3 linked regions of the Homo sapiens genome follow. The protein of the gene in region 3 interacts with the protein of the main gene of each other region in a pairwise test. Each region holds a gene or a part of one and is shown on either strand. Other genes may lie near its edges.

The links.
Region 1: the proteins of DBP (region 3) and EPAS1 come close enough for resonance energy transfer, tested with the Homo sapiens proteins (one large-scale study listed by BioGRID).
Region 2: the proteins of DBP (region 3) and CLOCK interact in a two-hybrid assay, tested with the Homo sapiens proteins (one study listed by BioGRID).

The regions. Positions count from the first base shown.
Region 1 is NC_000002.12:46,384,262-46,387,212, reverse strand, and holds the end of EPAS1 (endothelial PAS domain-containing protein 1), read right to left. Parts: intron 2,705-2,951; coding exon 2,553-2,704; 3' UTR 516-2,552; downstream 1-515.
Region 2 is NC_000004.12:55,442,391-55,446,050, reverse strand, and holds part of CLOCK (circadian locomoter output cycles protein kaput), read left to right. Parts: intron 1-1,265; coding exon 1,266-1,418; intron 1,419-2,154; coding exon 2,155-2,364; intron 2,365-3,416; coding exon 3,417-3,619; intron 3,620-3,660. UniProt on the Homo sapiens protein: Transcriptional activator which forms a core component of the circadian clock.
Region 3 is NC_000019.10:48,629,480-48,632,064, forward strand, and holds the end of DBP (D site-binding protein), read right to left. Parts: intron 1,574-2,585; coding exon 1,358-1,573; 3' UTR 551-1,357; downstream 1-550. Other genes in the region: SPHK2 (sphingosine kinase 2), read left to right, coding at 1-294. UniProt on the Homo sapiens protein: This transcriptional activator recognizes and binds to the sequence 5'-RTTAYGTAAY-3' found in the promoter of genes such as albumin, CYP2A4 and CYP2A5. It is not essential for circadian rhythm generation, but modulates important clock output genes.

The sequences.
Region 1 (2,951 bases), on a different chromosome or scaffold from region 3:
TCTGGGCTTTCACTGTGCTCTGTCTCTGGCCGAGGGGATCTCTGCTCTTCCCAATCACAGTCTACCTGGGAAGACCCTACTCCAGCCCAGCCGCCTCCAAATTGAAGTCCTAATGCCCAGGCTGCCCCTTTCCCTTCGGGACCTCCATCCCAAAGTGCACTATGTGAATATACAGAACAGTGTGGCTCTCAAACGACTTCATGTAATTTTCTGAAAGCAGAGACCATGACTTCTTTCCTTGGGTTCCCCATAGGATACAAAAAATGGCCCCGAGGCACATAGATAGATAGATAGAAAAATACTTGCAGAAATATGGAAGATACAATATGAATTTTCAGACTTAGGCAACTACCAAGTATTTAACACAGTCTTTCCTTCACCAGTCTTATCAGCTCACTTCAGTAGTCTCATAAAGGTCTGTGCTAATGTTCAATTTATATGAACGACTTAATACTTCACTTTACATTGGCATAGCCCATGATAAATCCACAGGAAATAAGAGCCACCAGCAGTGGTAGGATCAGAATACTTTAATAAGATACCAGTGTCAAAATACATTTCCTTATAAAGTTAAGCTCCCATACAGTTATAATGTTGTCAGTAGGAATTCGACAATATAATAACGTTCATGAAATCGTTACGTTGACAGGTAGGGTTAATATGAAGCTTGGAATATTTTTCAGTGTTTTAGTAAAACTGCAAGGGTAAAATGCCCTTAATGCCAGGGCAACACACACAGGAAATCAAATACCAGCATTTACACGTCAGTAACCCTTCAAGTTCTGCCACCCTGTGTGGGGTAATGCCGTGCAGCTAAAATATGATTTACGCAACACCATGACTAAGGAATTTCTCATAGAACTTAAATTTCTTTTGAAAGCTATTTTTTGTTTTTGGCAATAAGTCTATCCGGGCTTACTAAATAGTTGGCCCAATGTGCTTTGTGTGTGTTTTTAGAAACTTCTTCATTGTACCCATTACAGAAAAGTTCCATGTAATTGGTATTGAAAAACCAGAGGTGTCGTCCCTCTTACCCAGGGAGTTGCAAAGTGCTCTGGGAACACTATTTTCAGTGCTTCCTACCTACATGTCACTGACCGACCCAGAGACCTCAGCCAGGGCCTGTGGCTAGGGGCCATCCCTGGAGGCCTTGCGGGGCCATCTGGCTGCCGGCTGAGTGGGGGCTGCAGGGCTGGTCTGGACCAGCTGCTCTCCCGCTGTGCAGCCTCCTCCTCAGTCCAGCTCCACGGGGCTCCAAGGTCGTGAGCTTGGAGGACGTGGACGGGGTCACTATACCATTTTTGACCCCTCATTTGCATGAATTCCCGTCTAAACCATCTCATGGTAGTTCTGGAAATGTCCAAATGTGCCGTGTGAAAGACCATCCGAGTCACATAGCTCAGTGCACTTGAAGGGCTAGCAACAAAACCTTAAGAAAAGTTAGAGCACTTCCCCGCCCCACCCCCCGACCCCACAACGTGCCATCAGACCCTCTTGGCAGCAATAATAATAATACATACATACATAGTACATAGAGAATGTGAGGGGATAGCGCGCAGTGCTCCCGCTGAATGACTCCACTGCTCGGATTGTCACACCTATGGCATATCACAGATGGCAAAAAGCCGACAGAGGGAGGCCTTCCACAGTGTCCGTACAGGCCGTGGGAGCACTGGACAAGTCTGCAGTGTCCACAACACTAAGAAAAATTAACAGCTTCGAAAAGATCTTAAAGTGATTTTGTGAGCAGGATTCCATTTCCGTTTCTAAGTTTTTAGATATTACAAAGTACCCATATATATGATAAACACTTAACCCAGATATAAATTTTCTCCTCTTTTAAAAAACTCAGTTATGTTTTTGAATAATAATAAAAAATCCACCAAATGCGGGGGAAAAACACCAGTTTAGGAAAAGCCACGCTGTGCAACTTTCACAGATAACCACATACGTTGGAGTTGACCCTTCACATTTCTTTTTTTCCAAAATTAGAGCAAAGAGTCAGCTTAAACAAAAAAAAAAAAACCCTGAAATTTACAATATGGTGATTAGTTTAAAAAAGAAACGAGAAGGGCTCTGCGAGGGAGACGCCACAAACCAAGCTTGGAAAGCAAAATCATTTTTGTTTCTCTTTGGCAACAACAATAACGAGGAATCTTTTTAGTAAAATGAAGCTAAAGCTTCTCCCTACAGAAGAACAGACATGCACCAAACTTGTTAGTATGGACAGTTGTGTGTGAGAAGGAGAAGGAGGGAGAGAAACCTATGGATAATATAAATTAGAAGTCATTGAAGGTGGGGAGGAAAAAAATCCTACAAAATTTAAGAACATTTCAGAACAGGTAAAACAATTGTGTACTTTAAAAATAGGGATAATAAAGTGAGCATCTCAGAAAAAGGCCACTGCTTGGTGACCTGGGCAAGTCTGCCAGGTAAGTCCATCTTGTAAATAGTGTGCTGGCGTTAGAAATACCTAGTTGCAAAAACAGACGGAGAGAGTGAAGCTGGTGGGACGGCGTCGGCAGAGGTGCTGCCCAGGTAGAAGGCCTGGCTCAGGTGGCCTGGTCCAGGGCTCTGAGGAGGTCCCCTCCTTGCAGGAGCGTGGAGCTTCCCAGCACGGGCACGTTCACCTCACAGTCATATCTGGTCAGTTCGGGCAGCAGGTAGGACTCAAATGAGGGCCCGAGCAGCCGGCTTGCCATGCCTGAAAGAAGGGTTGGTACCATAACTTAAAGGCCTAAATCGAACATTTGGAAAAGTGTCTACTTCTTTGTGACTGGGGGATACCAATAGAGCAGCCCTAATTTCACTCTGCTCCTTCAGTGGTGTCTGTCCCACGGCCTGCTGCATGCCCGGGGAACGTGTCTGCCTCCAGAACCACTGCCTCAGGTGGGGTGCTGAGACCCAAGAAAGAGGAAAGCGTGAGGTGCGGGCTGCAGCACAGGTATGTG
Region 2 (3,660 bases), on a different chromosome or scaffold from region 3:
TGTAAATCCAGGGTGTATGTGTAATCAGTCAAGTATCCAGTCAGAAGCCAGAAGCATACCAGAAATTTGAACAGGAATAATATAAAAAATTATTAACTGGTAACACGGATTAACTCCTAAAAGAAGTAAAGAGAACCTAAAGAATATAGGAATAAAGCTGGGTGTGGTGGCTCATGCCTGTATTCTTAGCACTTTGGAAGGCCGAAGTAGGAGGACTTCTTGAGCCAATGAGTTCAAGACCAGCATGGGCAACATAGCAAGACCCTATTTTTACAAGAAAATACATTTTTATGTTAGCCAGGTGTGGTGGTGCATGCCTGTAGTCCCAGCCACTGGGGAGGCTGAGATGGGAGGAGCTCTTGAACCCAGAAAGTTAAGGCTGTAGAGAGCCATGATCGCACCACTGCTTTCCAGCCTGGGTGACAGAGTGAGATCCTGTCTCAAAAAAAAAAAAAAAAAAAAAAAAAAGAATATAGAAATAGCAGATGCAGAGAGCAACCACTAGCTGTAAGGTAGATGGAGAGTACCCAAGGAAGGAACATACTTAGAAGACTCCCCACAAGCTCCTAACCTCCTCTTCCCCCATGCCAGGCTAAGATGCAGATCTTCTTGGGGCAAATGTGGCTATAGCAACTGGATAATAGAGAAGTTCACTGACATGCCACAGATTAGAGGTAGAGAGCTGGAAGCCATCAGCTGGGGTACTGGTAAAGCTTGCAGGGAAGCTGCCCACTAGGATGTCATTGAGACTTGCTGGAAAGCCACCTGCCGGGGCAGGTGTATGTAAAAGTGAGAAATGTCCTTCCCATCCAAAGCTTTTTAACTCTATCTTCAATAGTTTGTATTTGGGATACTAAATTACATTTCAGGGCACACAACTTTGATTTCAGAAATTAACAATAACCAGACCATATCATATGTTAAACGTGGTTGAGAAAATATTAAAAGCTTCCCGTTGGCACCCTGACATAAGAGCAAGAAGCACCAGAACCAGGAGTTGAGCACTTTCTTGGCAGTGTCCCTCCAGCACCACCTACTGATGTGGATAACTTTGTGCCTGCTGGCAAAGGAGAAATATTTTGAAGGTCCAGGTCCAATATTACAAAGCAGAGCAAAGATGGGTGGATTAGAAACTAAGGGACATAACTAGTGAAGGATGTTATCATCCTTCACTCATGTTATACTGCTTACTTTTCATGTTGTGCAATTATAAGGAGTAAGTAATTCTAAAATATATTACACTTTTTCCGTACATGGTACTTCAGTTTCAGTTTTCAGCTCAATTAGGAGCCATGCAACATCTGAAAGACCAATTGGAACAACGGACACGCATGATAGAAGCAAATATTCATCGGCAACAAGAAGAACTAAGAAAAATTCAAGAACAACTTCAGATGGTCCATGGTCAGGGGCTGCAGGTAATTGTTATATTTGAATACAAACAAAGCATCCCATTCACATTTTGGATTTCTAGGAAAATTAACTTTTCTTAATTAAAAGTGAGATGCAAGAGATACGTTTTATCAATTCAGTTCAATAAATATTCACTGGTTACCTACTCAGTATGATTATACTTACAGTCTCTAAAGATAATTTGTTTCTGAGGGTATTTCTGTCAACATCCTTGTTTCTCCAGTCATCTTTTTTTACCAGTCCAAATTTTAGTAAGTTTGAATCCATAATATAAAAATTATATTTTACATAAAGTTTTAGGTACATCTTGGGTACAGAATTTATAAATCAATCATCAGTAATATTTTTATTAAGATACCAGTATGTATGATTCAAATTAGTCTTATATGACCAACCAGCAGGACCACTCTAGGAGACTATGACTTTGGTAAAGGGAAACTTGGAGTGAAAACTACTTCTGTGTGATGTTATAAATTATAAATGATAAGTGATACAGAGCTGTCAATCCACAGACTAACACTAGTTACACTTTTTCTAACAATTGGAAACAAGATAACTGAAAGATTGAATATAAAGTTTCATATTTTATTCACTACTTATTTATTGCTAATTCTTCAAAGTGACTTAGCCTTGTTACTTGCTTTTTAAACATACTTTGTAGCTTGATTTTGCCTTCTTTTTAATGCTCATTCTTCTTTTCAATCTACAAAGCTCATTTTAACATAATCTTTATTTTTAAAGATGTTTTTGCAACAATCAAATCCTGGGTTGAATTTTGGTTCCGTTCAACTTTCTTCTGGAAATTCATCTAATATCCAGCAACTTGCACCTATAAATATGCAAGGCCAAGTTGTTCCTACTAACCAGATTCAAAGTGGAATGAATACTGGACACATTGGCACAACTCAGCACATGATACAACAACAGACTTTACAGAGTACATCAACTCAGGTAATGTTACTGAGCACAGCGGGCTATGGAGTGATCAGTGGTTGGAAGGCACACTATTGCTGAAGCAGAAATAAAGCTCTAATGATAAAATATCATTTCAAAATTTAATAGTATTTAGAAAGTATAGTATTGAGAGTGATTATTAAAATATTTTGTGCAAATCATGTTAGTATCAAATATTTTCAGCTTTTTTTTTTCTTTTTTTTTTTTTGAGACGGAGTTTTGCTCCTGTTGCCCAGGCTGGAGTGCAATGGCGTGACCTTAGATTACTGCAACCTCCGCCTCCTGGGTTGAAGCGATTCTCCTGCCCCAACCTCCCGAGTAGCTGGGATTATAGGCACCCACCACCATGCCAGGCTGATTTTCATATTTTTAGTAGAGATGGGGTTTCACCATGTTGGCCTGGCTGATCTCAAACTCCTGACCTCAGGTGATCGCCCACCTCAGCCTCCCAAAGTGCTGGGATTACAGGTGTGAGCCACTGCGCCTGGCTGAGCTTTAAAATATGTCACAATCTGTTTAAAGATGTAGTCTAGTAGTTATACCAAGTTCTTGTAACTTAGACTATTTCTGTGTTTAAAAGGTATGACTTGCTCAAGAGGCTGACCAGGAAGCCTGTTCCCATATGTGCAGAATAGACTGTTGGGGGAGGGGGCATAATGGTTTATTGAATATTCCAGAAAATGTTGGTAATTACTGTAGATCTGTGACTGTAAATCCCAAGGATTTAAATGAAAAATAGAAAAATGCCCACTAATTAGTCATTCACTTTGGGCATTTAACAGAAATTCTTTGAGTATATTTTATATCATCTCTATTACAATCACACTCCTTTCTAAAGTCATAGCTTGCCTTCCAGCAAGATATTCAAGACTAATTCATTCTCAGTTACCACGAGTCATTCCTTTGTGGTTATATTTCCCCCAGAGTAATATATCCTGCCACTTCTTTCTCTGTCATATTGTCATATTGTTAGAATGATGAATTCTAGCATACTTCCCAAATAATTATTTTCAGTTAATCTGTCTATAAAATCTCTTTATTTTTAACAGAGTCAACAAAATGTACTGAGTGGGCACAGTCAGCAAACATCTCTACCCAGTCAGACACAGAGCACTCTTACAGCCCCACTGTATAACACTATGGTGATTTCTCAGCCTGCAGCCGGAAGCATGGTCCAGATTCCATCTAGTATGCCACAAAACAGCACCCAGAGTGCTGCAGTAACTACATTCACTCAGGACAGGCAGATAAGGTAGTTGTCATATTTCATTTGTTATTTTTAAAATTGTAAAC
Region 3 (2,585 bases):
CATGCGCGCTTCGACGACGGCCTGGTGCACCTGTGCTGGGTGCGTAGCGGCATCTCGCGGGCTGCGCTGCTGCGCCTTTTCTTGGCCATGGAGCGTGGTAGCCACTTCAGCCTGGGCTGTCCGCAGCTGGGCTACGCCGCGGCCCGTGCCTTCCGCCTAGAGCCGCTCACACCACGCGGCGTGCTCACAGTGGACGGGGAGCAGGTGGAGTATGGGCCGCTACAGGCACAGATGCACCCTGGCATCGGTACACTGCTCACTGGGCCTCCTGGCTGCCCGGGGCGGGAGCCCTGAAACTAAACAAGCTTGGTACCCGCCGGGGGCGGGGCCTACATTCCAATGGGGCGGAGCCTGAGCTAGGGGGTGTGGCCTGGCTGCTAGAGTTGTGGTGGCAGGGGCCCTGGCCCCGTCTCAGGATTGCGCTCGCTTTCATGGGACCAGACGTGATGCTGGAAGGTGGGCGTCGTCACGGTTAAAGAGAAATGGGCTCGTCCCGAGGGTAGTGCCTGATCAATGAGGGCGGGGCCTGGCGTCTGATCTGGGGCCGCCCTTACGGGGCAGGGCTCAGTCCTGACGCTTGCCACCTGCTCCTACCCGGCCAGGATGGCTGAGGGCGGAGTCTATTTTACGCGTCGCCCAATGACAGGACCTGGAATGTACTGGCTGGGGTAGGCCTCAGTGAGTCGGCCGGTCAGGGCCCGCAGCCTCGCCCCATCCACTCCGGTGCCTCCATTTAGCTGGCCAATCAGCCCAGGAGGGGCAGGTTCCCCGGGGCCGGCGCTAGGATTTGCACTAATGTTCCTCTCCCCGCGGGTGGGGGCGGGGAAATTCATATCCCCTGTTCGTCTCATGCGCGTCCTCCGTCCCCAATCTAAAAAGCAATTGAAAAGGTCTATGCAATAAAGGCAGTCGCTTCATTCCTCTCAGACCTTCTGCCCTTCCTCCATCCGACAGCCCGCGGGAGGACTCAGACTCCAGCACTTCCAGCAGCGCCTGCCCTCTATGGACGACAGCCCGGAGCTGCCCACGGGCTGCAGCCAGTATGCCAGGGAGCTGCCCTCTTCTTCCACAACAGCTGGCTCTGGGGTTCTCAAGATTTATTCAGGATCGTGTTAACGGAGGCGGTGGGAGGATAGGGTCCCTGACGTGCCGGGGACACACACAGAGAACCCTCCCCGCCCCCGCAAGGGAGGGGGGAGGCTCGCTTTTTCTTAAAAATATAAATGTATTTATCTGCATTATCACGTCCCTGGGGCACCCAGCTGGCCGGCCCGTGGGCCACAGGGCAGGAAGGGAACAGGGCGTAAGTCTCAGCAAGGCGGAGGAGAGCTCCGCCAGGTGGGGATGTGGGGCAGCCTCACAGGGCCCCGTGCTGGGCCTGGTATCGGGACAGCACGGCGCGGTAGTGGGACAGCTCCTGGCGCACGGCCACAACTTCCTGCCGCAGCAGGGCGTTCTCCTTCTCCAGGAAGGCCGCCCGCACCGATATCTGGTTCTCCTTGAGCCGCCGGGCGTCACGGGACCGCTTGGCTGCCTCGTTGTTCTTGTACCGCCGGCTCCAGTATTTCTCATCCTGCAGGAGAAGAGGGGGAGAGCACTGAGGTCCAGAGGGACCCAGGTCCCAGCGAGAGAGGAAGGGAGCCCCAGCAGCGGGGCCTAAACCACACCAGGTCTCTGCTGGGATAGGTACCCAAGGGTCTGCCTTTCTAGGGCCCTGGTTGCTAAGGAGATTGGGCCCCTAGCAACAGTAAAGGCATGAGATAGACCCCCCACCCTCAAGCAACTCGCTTCAAGTCTCCACTCTGCAAAGCGGACCCCAGCCCTCCCCACATGATAAAGGCCTGCATGCAGTTAGCTCTTGCTTGCTAAGGATGCTTGTTCCCTAGCAACAAGGCCTTCATGGTCTGAGGGCTTCTCCCAATGAAGAGCACTGCCCTGCCCTGCACATTGCCTTTCCAGATCCTGGTTGCTAAGGAAAGCTTGGTGCCCTGGTGATGGGGTTTGGTGTCCCATAAAATCCTCGCAGAGCTGGGGCCTTCTGACCTGGTTGCCAAGGCAACCTCATCCATCCTTGGCAAACAAAAGTGAGGTCTAAGTGGTTTCAATGACTGTGGCCAGCCTCTGACCTGCTGGCCTTGAACTGAGGCCAGAGAATAGCCTCCTCCCCAGTAGGACCTGACTGAGAGAAGAGCTGTCTCTTAGGAAAGGGGACTATCCTGAGACCTCCCCAGAGGATTATACCTAAAGTCCTCCCATCCTGGAAGTTGGTTCCTAAGGAAGACTCCTCCTTAGTAACCAAGGACCACGGGGCTCAGAAAGATGCTCTCTACTCCACTATTTAATTAAAGCCCAGTTCCTGCTTGTGAGGGTAAATCCAGTCCCTAGCAACAGGGCCCTCTAGAAGGAGAAACCACTGGTGTAGATCTGACTTCCAGGCCAGTCCTAGGTGCTTCAAGTAGCTATGTGTTACGCAAGGGTATGGCAAAGTCTTGTTTGTTTTTGAGATGGAGTCTCGCTCTGTCGTTCAGGCTGGAATGCAGTGGCATGATCTCGGCTCATTGCAACCTCCACCTCCCAGGTTCAAG